Linked DNA regions of Homo sapiens: region 1 is linked to region 2. Evidence: fine-mapped QTL for protein levels in blood plasma. Region 2 holds a variant in brackets. A gene starts in the other region. All regions are shown on their forward strands.

Region 1 (11,476 bases), not on the chromosome of region 2:
GAGGGAGTGACATGGAGCTTGCCTGCCGAGAAGTTGAATATGAGATGATCAAAACCGTATGAAGCTGGCTCTGAACAAACGCTCAACCACACAACAGAGATAGCCCCAGCTGTCTTGAGAACTGGATGTGCTCCTGGTGGGGGGCGGGGCATGGTGGGAAAAGGCCATGTTCAGTTCCATTTTTGTTAATCATATGTGTATTGGGGCTTATTTCATGCCAGACCCTGGCAGAGCAATGTTAGCAATGGAGTTGGATGAGGCCCAACCTCTCCCTTGGGAGCTCCCTCAACAAATAGGAAAGGGAGATTTTCATCCCCCAAAGGCTAAGAGCAACCTGAGAAGGGATGTCAGATACTTTTAGGGAGATATTGGCTGCTGAGATATTGGCCTTTAGGATGGGAGGTATCACCCAGCTGCAGGCCTTGAACCTGTAACAGATGCCATGTGCGCTAGAGAAGAAGGTGTCTATCTATAGGCAGGCAACAAGGCCTCCACATCCTAACTGGGAAGCTAGGAGTCCACACCACTCCTCAGAGATCTGACAATCTCTGGTGGGCTCCTGGCCCACCAGAACTCTGGATAAATGAAAATGCAACAATTGTCAGTGACTCACCGTGAAAGAGGAAGCAGATGTTGATTAAATGTAGTCACAGTGCTGAGAATGTTAGAGTGGGGCAGGATGCTCAGTTGCTCCAATTGCTCAGATTGCTGGGCAATTGTACCTGGCAGGGAGATAAGGGGGTAAGACCCAGTGCCCAGGATGGGTTGGTATGGTTGGGGGGTGGGAAAAAGAGGAAGGCAGAAAGCTAGGATGGAAAGCATTGGCTGTAGAAGGGGTGGGGAGGGTTGCATGCCAGCTCCCCTGGGACTCTGGTGTCCACCCCTTCAGATTTCCTCCAAGTTCTTCATTTCCCAGGCTTCCAGGGTCAATTGAATCCAAGGCACTTCACTAGCTCCTAGATTATTTTCTCTTTTTATGAGCCTCAGCATCTCCTTTGATCTCAGAGGGTGGCCCCAGGGAGAGTTTTCTGTATGTGCAAGACTTTGTGGGGTGTCTATGCAAATGCTGGCGGTTTAGCATGAGAACCAAAGATTCAGGAGCCAAGTCTTTGTTTGGAAGGAGTCTCAAAAATCAAGCTCCTCTCTCCCATCTGACAAATGGGGAAACTGGATCTCCGGGTGCAGAGTGGAAAAGGAACTTGCCCAGAGTCACACAATGAGTGGGGCAGAGACAGGATCATGGGACTCTGGCCCAGGCAGTGAATTCAGGATTTGCTCTGTACCTCCTGGCGGCAGTGTCATGGAGGTAGCGTCCAGGGGCCCCTATCCTGGTAGCATCTTCTTCAAGGTTCCCACTCTCACCTGCCCTGCTCCGTCTGTGTGTTCCTCCGATAGTCCAGAAAGATCACTTTTGTTGCTTCTGTGGCAGGCTGACTTCCTCTAAATGTCACTGGCACTGAGAAGGATTTCAGGCAATGTGCTCCCCTCCCATGTGTGTTTGTCCTCTGAGACACCAGCCTGCTGGGATGCGGGGCACGGGGTCCACAGCTGGGAGACCTAGAACGCCATGGCTGGCTGGCTTGGTGGATGGATGAAAGAATGGCTGGGTGGGAAGTGCGTGAGTGGACAGTTGGCTGGATGGAGGTCTGATGAATGCAGAAACAGCTGAATGAATGGATGCATGGATGCATGAATGGATGGGTTATTGCAGCTTTTCTTGAAAACTATCCCTATCCCTCCCACCCACCTGGTATTCCAGGTGATTCTGAGACCTGGGATACCCAAGGTTTTGAGCACCTGCATCTGGGAGCAGAGGAGAGGAAGAGGATGTCATGCTCTCAGTGAGGAGGGGCTTTCACAACTCCCTCACCATTTCTCCCTTTTCAAGGCCTGCCCAGGCCTGGTTTTGTTGCTGGCTGACGTATACCCGATATAATGACACCTCTCTTCCCAAGCAAGGGTGCTCAATCTGGCCTCCTTGCTGTCATCTGACCCCAGTGGCACAGCCTTGTCACTCCCAGCTGGAGAGGCCCTTAGAGAACACTGTCTGGAGGCTAGCCTGCTTCCCCAGGAGACTTCTCAAGTACGAGGCACTCACTCTGTACAGAGAAGCCCTGTGGGATGCTCCAAGAGTCACACGGCTCTCATCTCCCAGAGCTGAGATTCCTTTCTGGTCTCATCTGGGGAGATGTCTCTGGTCTCAGTGTTGCCTTTGAGCCCTGGAGCCCATGTAGACTGTAGGGGTGGTGGTAGGGCTCCTCTATGTGGAATCTCCTGTGCTTCCCTGGCTACTCCTTCTTCCACCCCGTGGGCCTCTCTCCTGTCTCTGACCTCTGACTCCCAGGTCTGTCTGTCGGTGTCCCTGAGAGGCATGGCCCCAGGATTGCAAAGATGGGGCTGGACCTTGCTCAGTTTGGCTGAGAGAGGAAGGCTGGCCTGGAGGTCAGATTCTGTATGGACAGAATGAACAGATGGACCCTCAGCCCTGGCTGCTGAGCCTTTCCTCACATATTTATTCATTCTCTAAACAAATATTTATTGAGGGACTGCCTTGTGCCAAGCAGCATGCTGGACACCACAAAAACAGTGGAACCCAAAATAGATGTGATCCCAGTCCAAGAACATGGACAAATTTGGACAAACCAGCAACTATAAGTCAGGGTGATGAATGCTGTGAGGGGCCACTGCAGGAGGCTACCTAACCCAGCCTGGGGTCAGGGAAGGCTTCCTGGAGGAAGAGGCGTCTGGACCCAGATGGGAAGCCAGGTGGGCAGAGGAGAGAGAAGAGTGTGCCAGACCAAGGGAAGGGCATGGGTGGATGGGTATTTTCCCCCAGGCAGTAGAGCTGGGCCCTTTGCCCCACTCCACCTCCCCCAGCCGTGAGAGCTGGTTCCCCACAACTCCCTTCCCCCCAGTGACACTGGATTCCTTAGACACCTGGATGCTTGAACACCTGCCTTGGAGAGCAAAGAGTGGGAGGCATGAGACGCTGGCTCATTCAGGGAACTGACCCAAGCTTAGTGTCGCTGAACTATGGAAAGCAATGAGGCTGATCCTGAGAGCATCAGGTTGTTAAGTGGAGGTGAGCAAGGAGACCCCCTAGGCCACAGAAGAGAAAATAGATCCTGCCATTCCACCTCCCCCTTCCTATTCCTGTCCACCTGGCTAGACAGCAAACGGACAGCAGACAGATCTATGGGTGCCAGGTGCCTTTTTTTTTTTTTTTAAGGCTAGTTAAGCAGTAGGAGTGGAGAAAGAACAAAGAAATCTGTAACAGGTTGTGATCAATTAGTTGTAAACACCAGGCGGCTTTATTGGTAGCATTGCAATCTGGGGGTGGAGCAGCTTTACTCTGACCACACTCACCCTCTCGCTCACACTCACACTCACACACACCCCAGGCCCTGTCCTGGCTGGTCAGGTCTGGTGCAGAGGAGCTGGAAGCCTGGTCCTTCCTTCTGGTCCTCGGTTCCCCAGGTTAGGTAATAATTCACAATGCTTGACTCGGACTCCGGGCTCCCTCTGCACGGTCATAGGTTAACTGCTGCGGCGCTTCATCTAGAGGAGGAAGGAGAGGAAGGATCATGGGCTGGAATCTTAGACAGGAGCTCAGAGGGAGGAGACAGGGCCAGGGAGGGCCAGGCTTGCCTTGGCTGAGGTCCTCTGCAGTCTCTGGATGATGCGTTCTACCCAGGGCTGGTCTGGGGGTGCACAGAGCTGGCGGCCCCTCAGTGTGGTGAACCTGGGGTGAGAGGCCGGAGAGAATGGAGCCCCAGAATCCAGCATGCCTGGGGACCATGTCTGGGAACCTGTTTCAGGGATTTCCTTGAAGGGGTTGGGCTTGGCATGGAGAAGGGGAATAAGAAGGTGGGAGTCTCAACAGGGGCTAAAACGGGAGATGAGGCTAGACACCCTCCCCACAACTCACACTACAGCAGGCACCCTGCAGCCATCCTTGATGAGAAGGTAGTGGAAGTTCCTCACGATGTACCCAGGGATGGGTTTCTGGGTCACAGACAGGCAGCAGTCTTCAGCATCATTGGTGCCACTCAGAGTTGGGGCTGGGATGGGGAAAGAAGGTGACAGGACACAGGGACCCTTGAGGGTGGCATGGCCATGGCCCTAGCTCGGATTGAGGACACCTGTGTGTGTGTGTGTGTGTGTGTGTGTGTGTGTGTGTGTGTGTGTCTGGTGGGGTCGGGGAGGAGTTAGACCTGGTATTCAGCCATTATGCACCAATATGGCTCTGGCTCTACTGGTTGCTAAATATATTGTCATACTTCTAAACTGTTTTGTAAATAACCACTGCCCTGAGCCCCACAAATGACTTCCTGCTGCCCTGATCACCCCAACCTCTCTCCCAGGACAATCCAGCAAGTAAAGAGTTAATGCAGGTCACAGTGTGGGAGGGGCGTGGGGTAGGGTAGGCTGGTGTTAGGAGCCTTATTAATTGCTAAAATTTTTGAATATCAGCCTTGGCTTAGTGTCTGCCATTCTCCCTACCTTAAGCAAATCTCCTTCTGCCTGGGAAACGGAGGCAGCAGGAAATAGAGCTTGCAGAGACAGTCACAGCCATAGGCCCCAGGATGTGCTAAAAGACACACCCGCATTGGGATTCAGGGGCACAGGGACACCCACACTTACAGGCACACATGCAGGGACCTGCCAGGCTCACCGAAATATACAGACCTAAGCATTTGCCTGAACTCACCATGTCCCTTACGTCCAGTGCCAAGCAATCTGAGATCTAGACATTACCCACTGCCAGCCCCCCACTGCCTCTGACCCTGACTCTCCCTTCAGCCTTACCTGGGGAAGTCCAGAGAACCAGCAGGCTGAGGGCCAGTAGCAGGGCCATGGAGGGTGAACAGAGGCAGGCCAACGGTGAATGTGTGAGCGCCAGCTGTCTGGGTGTGTGCAGGATCTGTGTGAGGCTGCAGGGCGACTGGGATGCAGGGGTGAAATGCAAGGTGTGAGTGATGTGAGGCTGGGAATGTGAGCCCTGCAGCTGACTCCTATTTATGGCCAGAGCTTCACTTTCTCTGCCTGAAATTCCCCTTCATGTCCCATTCTGTGATTCCCCTGTTGCCCCCCTCTTTCTGGCAGAATCGCACCCTGCCCCCCTTCTTCCCCCTGCGGTTGCCCTTTCCTTCTGCTTTCCTTGGCTCCTGCTCTGAGAACTTAAGTCTGCAGTCTGGCCCAGTAAAGGGGGCTGTGCACTGTTTCTCCAGAGAGAGGGATTGCCCTGTCATCCCATTGATGGCATTTGCATCATCAACCATGAAGCTGGGGTTCAGAAGTGATGGTCAAAGGTGGGGCCCACAGTGAGGAACTGTGCTCCCTTCCTTAGGTTTATCCCTTGTCCTCACTGGTGCTTCTTTCTTGGGCTGGTGGTGAAGAAGGCTCCCTGGCACCCTCAGGACAACCATGAGATCCTGGGGTGGCCTCCAAGGTCATCACTGTGCCTGCCCACTATGTGGGAACCAGTCCTTCCCTTGGGGCAAGCAGAGCTGAAAGGCCAGGTACCTTGGGAGGAGGCCCAGGACCCCCATCCCACATCTCAGGCCTCTGGGGCTCAGCAAACCCTCCCCTTCCTCTATTTACTGTTTTCCTATGTCCAACACCTGGGTCAAAGGAACAGCTGGAGGGAGACTGGCTTGGAATAGCCCCCTTCATTTTCCCCCTTTTCTCAGTCCTGGGAACCAAGAGGGGATTTCTAAGGAGAGGGGCTGGCCAGCTCATATTCAGACAAATCTTAAAATTTCAAGGAATCGGCCGATGGGGGAGGGGACAAGTGACTTCCCATCCTTATGAGAAAGGTCAGAAGAGAAGGCCTTGAAAGAGAAACTAAATGTGAAACGCCCAGTCACCCGTCGTCACCCAAACCCTAGACCCTCTTTTGGATGGAGAGAGGGAGGGGGAACATTTCCCTCTTAAATTTCTGACTTAGCTTCTTTCCATTCATTAATCATAATAATAGTAATGGTATTTTTGATTGTTTACTATGTGCTAGGCTCTATGTCAAGGACTTTACCACTATTACCTTGCTTAACTTTCCCAAAACAATACCATTGATGTAGTTTTTCTTATTTTCACATTATTATTCTTATTTTACACATAAGGAACATGAGGCTCAGAGCACAAAGCCACACAGCTAGTAAGTACTGGAGCATGATTTGGACCCAGGTGTGCTCTAGGGTTTGCAGTCTTTACCTCCACTCCACACCGCCTGTCTGCCACTTGGTCATGGCACAGCACGGGTAGTCACGGTGCAGAGGAGGGAGACTCTGCAGACAGAGCGCCTAGCTTGGGATTCAGATTCCACCACTTACTAACTGCGACAAGGTGAAAATTCTCCAGTTTCTGTGTCTTAGTGTCCTTATTTGTAAAATGGGAATGGTAGAAGATCTACTTCTTAGGATTAAGTGAGGAACCCTGAGTAAAGCCCTTAGCTTAGAGGCTGACGCACAATAAGCTCTGTTAGCCATTGTTCTTCTTTTGTCCTTTTTTTTTTTTTTTTTTTGAGACAGAGTCTCACTCTGTCACCCAGGCTGGAGTACAATGGCACGATCTTGGCTCAGAGCAACCTCCACCTCCTGGGCTCAAGGGATTCTCCTGCCTCAGCCTCCTGAGTAGCTGGGATTACAGGCACCCACCATCATGCCCGGCTAAATTTGGTATTTTTAGTAGAGGTGAGGTTTCACCTTGTTGGCTAGGCTGGTTTCGAACTCCTGGTTTCGAACTCCTGACTTCAAATGATCTGCTTGCCTCCGCTTCCCAAAGTGTTGGGATTACAGGCGTGAGCCACCGTGCCTGGCCTTCTATCCTTTTATTCAGGTATCTGTTCATTAATTCATCCATCCACCCCTCTTTCCATTGATCTATCCATTCTTCTGTCCATGATGGTTCTGGTTATTCTGTTTGCCCCAGCCTATCCATTCTCCACTCTTCACGGCCCTGCTCTGCTCCCTGGAAGGCTGACCTCTGCAGATAGCATTACTTAGGGTCACCTGCTTTCTGGCTTCTGTTTGGGGCTGGCCCATGGGAAGCAGCAACTGATCAGTGGTGGAAGGAGAGAGGGGTATTAATTCCCCAAATCCTTCATCTTGCTGCAGTTCTGGCAGTGAATAATTTCCCCTGTGGCAGTTGTTCTCAAAGAGTAGCCTTTGGGCAGCAGCAGCAGCATCACTTGGGAGCTTGTTAGAAACACGAATTCTTAGATTTTACTTCCCACTTACCACATCTGAGACTCTGAGGATGGGGTCCAGCAAACTGCATTTTCACATACCCTCCAAGTGACTCTGATATGTGCTAAAGTTTGAGATCCAAACGAGCCTCAGGGATACCATCAAATATACCTCATCACAGGAGTCTCAGGAGGAGAATAGAGAGAACAGGGCATTAAAAAAATTGAAGAAATAATGACAAAACATCTGAAATCTGATGAAAAGTATGTATATACATATCCAAGAAGTTCATTACGCCTGGCCTGCTATGTTGTTATGTTTATCAGAGATCTTTGTTTCTTTGTGTGGCTGTAAGTTATTACTTTTTGTCCTTTTGTTTCATTCTGAAGGTCTCCCTTTAGCATTTCTTTGTTTGTTTTTTGTTTTTTCTTTCTCCCTTTAGCTTTTCTTATGGGCAGATGTACTATTAATGAACTTCCTAAGTTTTGTTTATCCAGAACAGGAGTTTGAGACAAGCCTGGCCAACATGGTGAAACCCCATCTCAACTCCTGACTACTCAGCTACTCAGGAGGCTGAGGCAGGAGAATCCCAAGGCTCACCTTGGCCTCCCAAAGTGGTCTACAGATTGAGGCCCACTGATCTACAGTGATCCTTTTGGGTTGCCTCCCTTCCACGGGTCTATCTCTATTCTTTTTTTTTTTTTTTTTTTTTTTTTTTTGATACAGAGTCTCAATATGTCACCCAGGCTCTAGTGCAGTGGCACAGTCTCAGCTAACTGCAGCCTCTGCCTCCTATGTTCAAGTAATTCTCTTGCCTCAGCCACCCGAGTAGCTGGGATTAGAGGCACGCACCACCACGCTTGGCTAATTTTTTTTTTTGAGATGGAGTTTCACCCTTGTCACCCAGGCTGGAGTGCAATGGCACAATCTCAGCTCACTGCAACCTCCGCCTCCTGGGTTCAAGCGATTCTGCTGCCTCAGCCTCCTGAGTAGCTGGGATTACAGGGACCCGCCACCACACCCAGCTAAGTTTTTTGTATTTTTAGTAGAGATGGGGTTTCATCATGTTGGCCAGGCTGGTCTTGAACTCCTGACCTCAGGTGATCCACCTGCTTTGGCCTCCCAAAGTGCAGGGATTACAGGCGTGAGCCACCATGCCCGGCCTAATTTTTGTACTTTTAATACAGATGAGATTTCACCATGTTGGCCAGTCTGGTCTCAAATTCCTGACCTCAGGTGATCCACCCGCCTCGGCCTCCCAAAGTGCTGGGATGACAGGCTTTGGAAACACTGTTCCCTCCTCTTGCCCCTTCAAGCCTTTGTATGATAATGGTTTCTCACCATTGCTAGACCCCAACTGCCTATCATCCCATGTTAGTTCCTTAATCCTGACCTAATCTCTTAAATTGTCCCTTTATTAAAATCTTTCCAGTTAAATTTTTTTTGAGTGTATGTGATATTGTGAAATATATATCTGGTCTTCATCTTCCTTTTCTGACATATAGCTCCTAAAATCCTTGGAATCTTGGGAGAGATTGTGTCTTTTGTATGCTAATGAGATAACTGGTGGCTGGGGGCCTCTAGACAGCCTCTGGATGGGAGCTAGTCAGCAGAAGAACCAGCCACATGGTTAGAGAGTTGGAACATTCTCTAACATTCTGTAGTGGTGGGGAGTCCCACCCACTCCCCACCTCTGGGTAGGGGAAGAGGGGTTGAAACTTGAGTTGATAAACCAATGGCTGATGATGTAATCAATTATACCTAGGTACTGATACTTCCATTAAAAACCCGAAAGGACTAAGTTGGGGTGGGGGCTTCTGGATAGCTGAAAACATGGAGGTTCTGGAGGAGGGTGCCCAGAGAGGGCATGAAAGCTCCACACCTTTTTTTCCCCATACCTCACTCTATGCATCCCTTTCATCTGGCTGTTTATCTGTTCTTTGTAATATCCTTTATAATAAATGGGTAAGCATAAGTAAGTGTTTCTCTGACTTCTGTGAGCCGCTGTAGCAAATTAATTGAACCCCAGGTGGGTTGTGGAAACCCTTATTTATAGCTGGTCAGTCAGAAGCATAGGCCACACTCTGTGCTTGCAATTGGTATCTGAAGTAGGGGGGCAGTCTTGTGGAACTGAACCCTCAACTTGTGGGATCTGATGCTACCTCCAGGTAAATGATGTCAGAATTGAACTGAATTAGGGGACACCCATCTGGTGTCCACTGAGGAACTGTCTGCCAGATAATTTCTTGGTGGGGAGAAATCCCCACACACTTATGGGTACCCAGAGGTCACAGAAGTATTGAGTGGTGAGAGGGAGTAGAGAGTAGGGAAACATGGTTTTCCCTGTATCCTTGGAGTGTGCTATCTGTTTCCTGCCAGGGTCCTCACTGATATAATTGGCAGTACCAGGACATAGATTCCCAAAATGGGATTCTAGGATTGGCTTGCCCTTGATGAGGGCATGGATGGTCTCTGTGGTTGGAAAAAGAAGACACAAGTAATCTGGAGCACGTAGAAGCATCACAGTCACTTAGACTATCACTCGTGAGGCATGGATGAAATGTTGGAAGTCAAGACATTAGGAGATAAAGTACCTGAGGCACTTACTTACTATGGTCACAAATGATGATTGCAAATGGTGATTACTATATTGTTACTATAGTACTATATTGAGGCCAGAACCTCACTGGCCATTTCTGATTGTGCTAGTAAAATTCCAATAAAAAAGATAAGGTTAGGCCAGGCACAGTGGCTCACGCCTGTAATCCCAACATTTTGGGAGGCTGTGGGGGGCAGATCACTTGAGGTCAGGAGTTTGAGACCAGCTTGACCAACATGGCGAAACCCTGTCTCTACTAAAAATACAAAAATTAGCCAGGCACGCTGGCGAGTGCCTGTAATCCCAGCTACTCAGGGGGCTGAGGCAGGAGAATCGCTTTAACCCGGGAGACAGAAGTTGCGGTGTGCAGAGATCATGCCATTGCACTCCAGGCTGGCGACAGAGCAAGACTCCATCTCAAAAAAAAAAAAAAAAAAAAAGTTTAGACCAGGAACTTCTAACTCAAATGGAAGTCTTAAGGAATGTTTATTGTATGTGGCCACATGACAGATATGGCTGAGGATCAGATCCAAGACCCGAGTGTCTTGGATTCATGTATGAGTGATGATGCCCTTATCCTGGAATAAAGGCACTGTTGGGAAGGCATAGGACTCTGAAACTTGGAATGGTGACATTTGAGCAGAGATGAACAAAGCTGAGAACTTTGGACCTTCAAATCCCCCTGAATCTTCCTTGGTGGCAGAGGATAATTCCCCCTTCCCCTGTAAACCATGAAGGATCCAACCTTCCCTTCCGTTAGATAATAACTCTCTGGCAAAAGGCATGCCTTTTTCCCTCAGGACCCACCCTGACCAGCCCTCAGAGTCTCCAGGCCCGTAGCAAGTTTAATCCTAACATTGTCTGGACAGGAAAGTACAGGATATGCTCCAAGAGCAAGAGCGTAGGTGCTGGGAAATTTGCAGGAACTTGTCAACTTGTCCTGGGAGAATCCCAGGAACCAGTGAGGACAAATTTATTGATATAGGTGTTCTCATGTAGGATTTGGGTATCATTGTGTTAATATTAGCTGAGCACCTGGGAGTTGTGTTAATATTCTGTTGGGTTGATTCCTGGAAGCCTGGATTTGACAGTGGCCTGTGATCAGTGAGGCTGAGGTGCTAGAACCTCGCTGGCCTGTTGTAGAACTCCTCAAACTTTAATGTGTGCATGATTCACCTAGGAGAATCTTATTAAACTGTAGATTCTATTCAGTAGGTCTGTAGTGAAGCCCAGGATGTTTCATGTTTCACATTCACAAATTTTTTTTTTTGAGGTGGAGTCTTGCTCTGTCACCCAGGCTGGAGTGCAATGGCACGATCTCTGCTCACTGCAACCTCCACCTCCTGGGTTCAAGCGATTCTCTTGCCTCAGCCTCCCAAGTAGCTGGGATTACAGGCACATACCATCATGCCCGGCTGACTTTTGTATTTTTAGTAGAGATGGGGTTTCATCATGTTGGCCAGGCTGGTCTTGAACTCCTGACCTCAGCCGATCCACCTGCCTCGGCCTCCCAAAGTACTGGGATTACAGGCCTGAGCCACCGCACCCAGCCTTCACGTTTCACAAACTTTTAAATGATGCTGATGCTGTGGTCCTTGGACTATACCTTGAATAGTAAAGTAGAGGAAGAGGTTCAAAGGTTAGAAATAAATGTTGAAATTACCTATTTTGTACACCTCCGAAGGGCCCA
Region 2 (7,166 bases):
AATTTATTAGTAGGCGAGTACTGTGTAATGAGGTAAGACTCAGACCACTCACTATCTGAATTCCACCACTATCCTAGCTATGTAATCTTGAGCAGGTTATCTGACCTCTTAGACCTCATCACCTTCATCTGCAGAAATGGAGACACTACCTGCCTCAGCTGGTACTGTAGGGGGATTATGGCACACAGTAAGTACTCCACGGTGTTGGCTGTTATCCTTAATACCATCATGGCTACTTACCAATGGGAATCTATCTGAATCCTTTTTACACATTTCACAATATGGAGCCAACCACTGAGTTCACTCCCAAAATTATTTTAAGTATGGAAATTCAAAGAGAAGAAACTAATAAAAAATAAACTGTCACAGAGTATCTACTTTGTATTTTCATCAAGAAATTGAATGACAAAAGTAAGCTTATTCATCTGTAGGCGATCTTAAGTAGTATGGGGCTGGTAAACTAAAAAATATCTGATTTCAAAGGAATCATGAAAAATTGGAATGGAGATCAGAAATAAGAGATGCAACAAATTTGAGAGAGTTTATGTAGGAGCAAAATAAATTATGATACTTATTGTATAAGAAATGTCTAAATCTCTAAGTAAGGCAGAAAAAAACCCTCATGAAGCTTAGTAGGTTAGACAGTTGCCTCATAAAAAGGTAGTTCTGCCACTGACAAACTATAACATATCAAAAGAGACAAACAGAATACATTTTTGAATTAGGGTAATTCTTTCTTTAAATTCAACACCAGACATAGAAAGTAAACAAACAAACAAAAACAAATAAATTCAACACCAGACAGATTCTACTTGGACCCGAGTCTGGTTTGAAGGCTACGCTTTCAGATATCTGAAGGCCCAAAGAAGCAGACATTACGAACCACCTCTCTGAGTGGTTTAAATTTAGACATGCTTAAATGTAAGCATAAGATAAAAAGTTGAACCGAAATCATTCCAGCTCTGATTTCATAAAGCAGCAGTACTCTATGTTTTCCTCTTGGGAAAAGCAGATCTAATAGAGATTTGTAAATTGTCTCAAGATTTCTCCTACACTATTTGTATTTCAGATACTTAGACTAATTTTTAAATTAAAAATACCATTTTTTCTTTGTTAAACTGAACAACTTTAAATCTCTCTTTCTGGGGAAAGATGT[T/C]CTATAATGTTTCTTACCTTTTATAAAGGTTTTGAGACACAAAGAGATTAAGAAGGCAATCATGCAGCTTCTGTTTACTTCCCTGCTGCTGAAAAAGCCACGGGAGTTCATCTGCACTTCTCCAAGTCACTCTGTCCTGACTATCAAAAGAGAGGAGACAATATTCAATATCTTCCTACAATGAGACTGCTTCAAAAAGGCTTCAGGCAAATGTCAAAGGAAGAAAAATATTTAACATATATCTCTGATTCTTTAAGTATAATTTAATACTAAAAAAGTTAGGTCAAAATCAGAGACTTTACCAATCTAAGAAAATAAATTCAGTGATATGCAGAACCATCAACCAAACTCTAAAAGTATTTTCCTAAAATTGAACTATTTAAAAAAACACTCAATGGACCCGTATATACACATACAGATACATGGACACAAACTATTGGAATAAAATAAAAATAATAAAATGATCCTACATTGATTTTCCTTGTTTAAACTTTTAGCATAATATTAAAAGACAAAATCATCTTTTGCTCTTTTGACATTAACAGAATAGGGAGAGGATTTAATCTTTTTTGTAATAATTAAGTTTTTGTACTTTAAGTTGTAAGCTAAGAAACAGAAATAAGGACACAAAGGTAGTGTGTTGCAGAAGTTACAGAAGAACAACAGGAACATTTACAATACCTTAGCTGCAAGGTGAAATAGTTGATTAGCTTTTGCCTGTATGAAGAAGTAACAGTGGGGCCTTCCAGGTACTCCAATCTCACTGTTTCCCAAGCCTAGGGAGAAAAAGAAGAAATACTGAGTTCTATTTCACGTAAGTCACTGTACATCTAACAAGAGATTTGCAAAAAAGAATTTATAATTATTCCTATTTTATAGCTGTATAATAGAAATGTCACTTAAATGTTTTTAAATTTAGGACATATTTATTTGATAAACTGTTACTAGAATAAAAATTTCTGTACTAATATTTATAAGCTCAAAACACAATTTAATTCAAACTTTAGTTAATACATTAAAAATCTCAGAAGTGTGGAATGAAAAGTTACTAAAAAGAATAAATTATATTCAAACAATACACAATAAAGAAAGGAAAAAGGCTGTGAAATTGCAAACATTTCACATCTACAAATATGATACAGCATACTCAAATGTAAGACTTCATTTACAATTGTATATATATATAAATCAACCATGGCATTGCAGATGATAGGAATTATTTTAGCCAAAACTTCCTAAAGATTTACTTCTATGTGCTAAACATCTTTCTAGTACCTCACAAGGACCAAGAACGACCTCAATTAATTTGCTTCACAACCCCTTTCATAAACTGCCAAAGTCCGCCTGGGGCTTAGATCTTGCCCAAGTTTAGATAGGCATTAATCCATGAAAAGGAGGCTGACTGGCTTACAGAGTCCAAACTCTTAATACATATACAGTCATGTGCACATAACAATGTTTTGGTCAACAACAAACTGCATACATGATGATGATCCTATAAAATTATAATGAAGCTGCCCTATACAGGCATACCGTTTTAAAACTTTCATACCACATTTTTACTGTAACTTTTCTGTATTTAGATACACAAATACTTACAGTTACACACAGTATTCAGTACAGTAATATGCTGTGCAGGTTTGTAGCCTGGGAGCAATAGGCCATACCATATAGCCTCCATGTGTGGTAGGCTGTACCATCTAGATTTGTGTAAGTACGCTCTACAATGCTCACACAATGATACAATCACCTAATGATGTGTTTCTCAGAACATATCCCCATTGTTAAGCAATGCATGACTGTATAATAATACCGCAATTCAATGAAACATAATTGAAAAAGACTTTTTTTCTCTTCAAGAAATAAACTACCTTTAAGAAACTTTTTTTGATCTTTTGTGTCTGACTTATTTTTTAATTTTAAAAATTGTATTGTGGTAAGACCACTTAACGTGAGATCTACCCTCTTAATAAATTTTTAAGTGTACTACAGTATTGTTAACTATAGGGACAATGTTGTATAGCAGATCTTTAGAATTTATTCCTTTGGCAGAAATAATCTTGCCACTGCACTCCAGCCTGGGTGACAGAGAAGACCCTGTTTCTTAAATAAATAAATAAAAAGATGCCTAAAATAACATTACCTGCAGATGTTGAAACCTAAGCAAGCCACATCCATAAGTCAACAAACACATTTTGTATAAACTGTGAATAAGGGAGGTCAAGAAAGTCCAGGACATCTCAGGATAGAGTTCCATCAGTTCTGATTCACTCACACCATTGTGACTAACATTGACAAGGCAGAGGATCTAGGTAGAAAAACAAATTAACAGTAATCATAAAGCACCTGTATAAGTAACTAACGGCCATTAAAAGTTCCATAATTCTTTTAAGGCTATTTCTTTTTACCAAAACTTATAATTCAAATGATTTAATAAATCAAGAAACAGATTTATTAAAACACACTGTCCAAAAGACATTAATGAAGATTAAGATAGTGTATATATAAAATCTAGCACACCAAAGATAACACTCTTACAGAAAAAAGTACAGTGAAAATTAAAACTGCATAAAATGTATTATTATAATTAATGGCAGAATTCCAATTCCAGGAAGACAGTGGAAGAAAATAGCCCTCCTATTATAAACACGTATGAATATCAGACACATTTCTAAAAGCACAGTTTTTAGATAAATAAAGGGAAATCCTCCAACTGCCAAAAATGAATAGGAAATTGAAGTCAGAGTGTAAAGGGCTGGAACTGCTGGCTATGGGGGCAGTGGAGCTAGAGGACAGGCAGCATCCCCCAGTAAGAGCTCAGGTTTTCACAGCCACAGTGGGATGGAAGGTGAGCCCTTAAGCTGTGTGAGGCAAGGAGGTAGAATTAGATTTCTTGTCAACACCAGGATCTTTGAAGGGCTTTGAAGGACCTTCACCCTCAGTGAAGGGGTGCATGAGAAAAACATTAGCCCACAGACGTGGAGAGAATACGAGGAAGCTTGTGGGCTTGGAGTGGGCTGAGAAGTCCAAACCCTGGGAACCACCAAGCTGAAAAGTTAACATAAAAATAGATCCAGGTTCGGCAGGGCGCAGTGGCTCACGCCTGTAATTCCAGCACTTTGGGAGGCCAAAGTGGGCAGATCACGAGGCCAGGAGATCGAGACCATCCTGGCTATCACGGTGAAACCCCATCTCTACTAAAAATACAAAAAATAAGCTGGGCGTGGTCGTGGGTGCCTGTAGTCCCAGCTACTCGGGAGGCCGAGGCAGGAGAATTGCTTGAACCCGGGAGGCGGAGCTTGCAGTGAGCCGAGATCGCGCCACCGCACTCTAGCCTGGGCGACAAGGCGAGACTCTGTCTCGGGAAAAAAAAAAAAAAAATGAGGTTGCTAGATATATATTTTCAAAAACCAAAATTGAATACATCAACAAAAAACTACAATGTTATTTTAATTACATAGCACTTAATTCTAAAAATATATATATGGAAAATTAGACAAGGCAATTGTGAAGGATAATAATAAAAGGAGGTTTACCCAAGTAACTACCAAAGCTTACTTTAAAGTTCTAACAACTAAGCAGTATGGTACTGGCAAATAATAGGCAAAATCAGAACAGAAGAGCCTAGAAACAGACCCACATTTATTTGTGAGCTTGATATTTGTCAGTTGGCATTGCAAATGAGCAGAAGAGATGTATTATTTAGTAAAAAGAACAATTAATTATCCATATGACAGAGGATTAAAAAATAGAATCCTTCCTCACACAATAAACAAAAAGATATCAACAAGAGTTAAGGACTTCACACACGAAGAAAAAACTATAAAACTTTTTGAAGGAAATTATGTGTGTGTGTGTGTGTGTGTGTTTACACACACACACACATATATATATGAAACAAAGCTTTGTATAATGAATGAAACATAATGAATGATACCATACAGTTAAAAGACAAGAAACAAACAGGAAAAAGACATTTATTTGCAAATTTTCTAATAAAGGATTTGTTTTCAGTATGCAGAACATTTAAGACACCTACAGATCGATAAGGAAAAGACAAATGACCCAATTAAAAAATGGGTAAAGACCTGAACCAGCAATTCAGAAAAAAAGGATAGCCAATAACATGAAAAGATGATAAATCTCAATGATAATCAGGTAAACACAAATTTCCACAAGCACACTATGGCTATCAGCATTCCTGCATATGCCTGAAACATATTTAAGCACAAATTTTAAAAGAATTGTTATTTATTTCCATTCACACACACACAAAGCAAACTAACATTCCTTTTTATAAGTTTATTACATTCTACCTGCTTCATTAGCTCTTTATCCACATCATTTGCCATGGACTCCCGGATAGAGTGCAGAACAAGTCTATATAATGAAAGAGTATCTTGACACTGGAAACACTGATGAAGGATTTTATCTAAATTGCCTGCTCTCCCAGCACTGTTGGAATCGAGAAGAGATTTAATTTCTTACAGATTGCCAACATCTGTGAAAATTTTGAGATCGATTAAAAACAACGTGAACTCTATTTTTTGTACTGCAACCAATAACAAATTCAATAAAACATGATAAAGGAAAGTGGTAGTTTTATGGGGCTGCTAGAGTCATTGGGTTTATTTTACTATATATAATTTAATTCAGTGCAATAAACATGCTGAAATCTATTATTTGTTAAGCAATTACTATGCATTATGGAACATAAAAATGAGTCAGACACGGTTCTTATTATCCAGAAGCATGCCACCTACATACAGGAAGCAGGGAAACGATGATAAGTATTGTTAGTTAGCCATGCAAATTAAATTTGTGTGGAGCCAGAATTTTGAAAACACAAGGCTAAAGAAAATCATTAAATAGGGGGGTATGTTTTAAAAGATTACACAATATTTACCAGTTTTTAAAAATAATATAAAGATGTACAAAGAGAAAAAACAAAGGGTCCATAGTCTCTTTAAAATAGGTACTTTCAAAAATAAAAACAGTAAAATACTTTCAATGAACATTATTAAATGTATGAAAAATTACTCACACTCTTGAATCATACTCATTGTATCACTGATGTTCACAGAGGCCAGATGTGTTGCTACAACTAACAGTGGAAAAGGACAGTGGAAATATCACAGGCAGGCTGGGTACAGTGGCTCACATGCTGTAATCCCAGCACTTTGGGAGGCTAAGCAGGTGGATTGCTTGAGCCCAGGAGTTCAAGACCAGCCTGGCAATCATGGCAAAACCCCGCTTATACTAAAAATACAAAAATAAGCCAGGCATGGTGGTGTGCTCTTGTAGTCCCAGCTACTCAAGAGGCTGAGGTGGGAGGATCGCTTGAGTCTGGGAGGCAGAAGTTACAGTGAGCCGAGATCAAGCCTCTGCTCTCCAGCCTGGGCAACAGAGAGTGAGACACTGTCTCAAAAACAAAAACAAAGATGAAATATCATGGGCAATGTAAAGTTTCAGAAGATTTTTTTATTTCAAATTTGGTTCTCAAGATGAGAACATGGAATAAAGAGACAAGAAGTACTAGATTCGGTGTCTGGAAATATGTGTGCTAGAATTGCCATCTATTGCAATGAATAACAAAAAATGTATTAATCTTTTTTTTTTTTACCTCAGATTGAGAAAAGACAAAGTAGAGTGATGCTATACTGAAGAAGAAATAAAAGTAGTAAAACATTCTAACGGTTGAGAATAGATAGAATAGGGTAAAGCTATACTGAGGAAATAAAAGTAGTGATACTCTAATGCTTATCTAAAGGCAGATTACTAATGGATATCTAAAATAGAACTATTTTTATAATTAAAAAGTTTATCAGGACTTGAGAACAGAGACAATTAAAAATTCATATCCATATATCTACCTCCTGATATTCAAAGATACCTGAAATAATATTGTAACCCTCAGTTGTTTCCTTCACTTTCCCAAAGCTAGGGGCCACAAATGAGGGTGAGGATGGCTTTCTTTTGCAACCTCCAATAGGGAACAGATTAGTGTGAA

Alleles and levels. Positions count from the first base shown, and alleles are read on the strand shown. Strength reflects both the effect of a copy and how common the allele is.
For the plasma level of the protein whose gene starts at base 4,995 in region 1, T is the low allele of the variant in region 2 and C is the other (weak association).

The links. A credible set is the group of variants that fine-mapping cannot tell apart. PIP is the chance, under the fine-mapping model, that this variant and not a neighbour inherited with it causes the effect. Protein levels are from antibody-based Olink assays in UK Biobank. Linkage for the fine-mapping came from a reference panel and not from the study's own genotypes, which makes the PIPs less certain.
Region 1: CCL19 starts here. The variant in region 2 is the best candidate, but not a certain one, in a credible set for the plasma level of the CCL19 protein (UK Biobank, PIP 0.61).

Annotation. Positions count from the first base shown.
Region 1 is chr9:34,686,282-34,697,757 of GRCh38, forward strand. CCL19 (C-C motif chemokine ligand 19) reads right to left here and starts at 4,995. Exons shown (of 4, transcript NM_006274.3): 1 at 4,810-4,995; 2 at 3,929-4,061; 3 at 3,649-3,742; 4 at 3,289-3,558. The coding sequence starts at 4,858. The coding sequence ends at 3,538. It also overlaps a transcript of PHF24 not described here.
Region 2 is chr3:132,689,355-132,696,520 of GRCh38, forward strand. It overlaps NPHP3 (nephrocystin 3), which reads right to left. Exons shown (of 27, transcript NM_153240.5): 16 at 5,473-5,611; 17 at 3,300-3,464; 18 at 1,838-1,932; 19 at 1,174-1,296. It overlaps NPHP3-ACAD11 (NPHP3-ACAD11 readthrough (NMD candidate)), which reads right to left. Exons shown (of 45, transcript NR_037804.1): 15 at 5,473-5,611; 16 at 3,300-3,464; 17 at 1,838-1,932; 18 at 1,174-1,296. Among named protein-coding and RNA genes, the nearest start is that of NPHP3-AS1, 29 kb to the right of the region's middle. RefSeq lists enhancers at 3,675-4,176, 4,177-4,676. The variant T/C (reference allele first, on the strand shown) is at 1,157.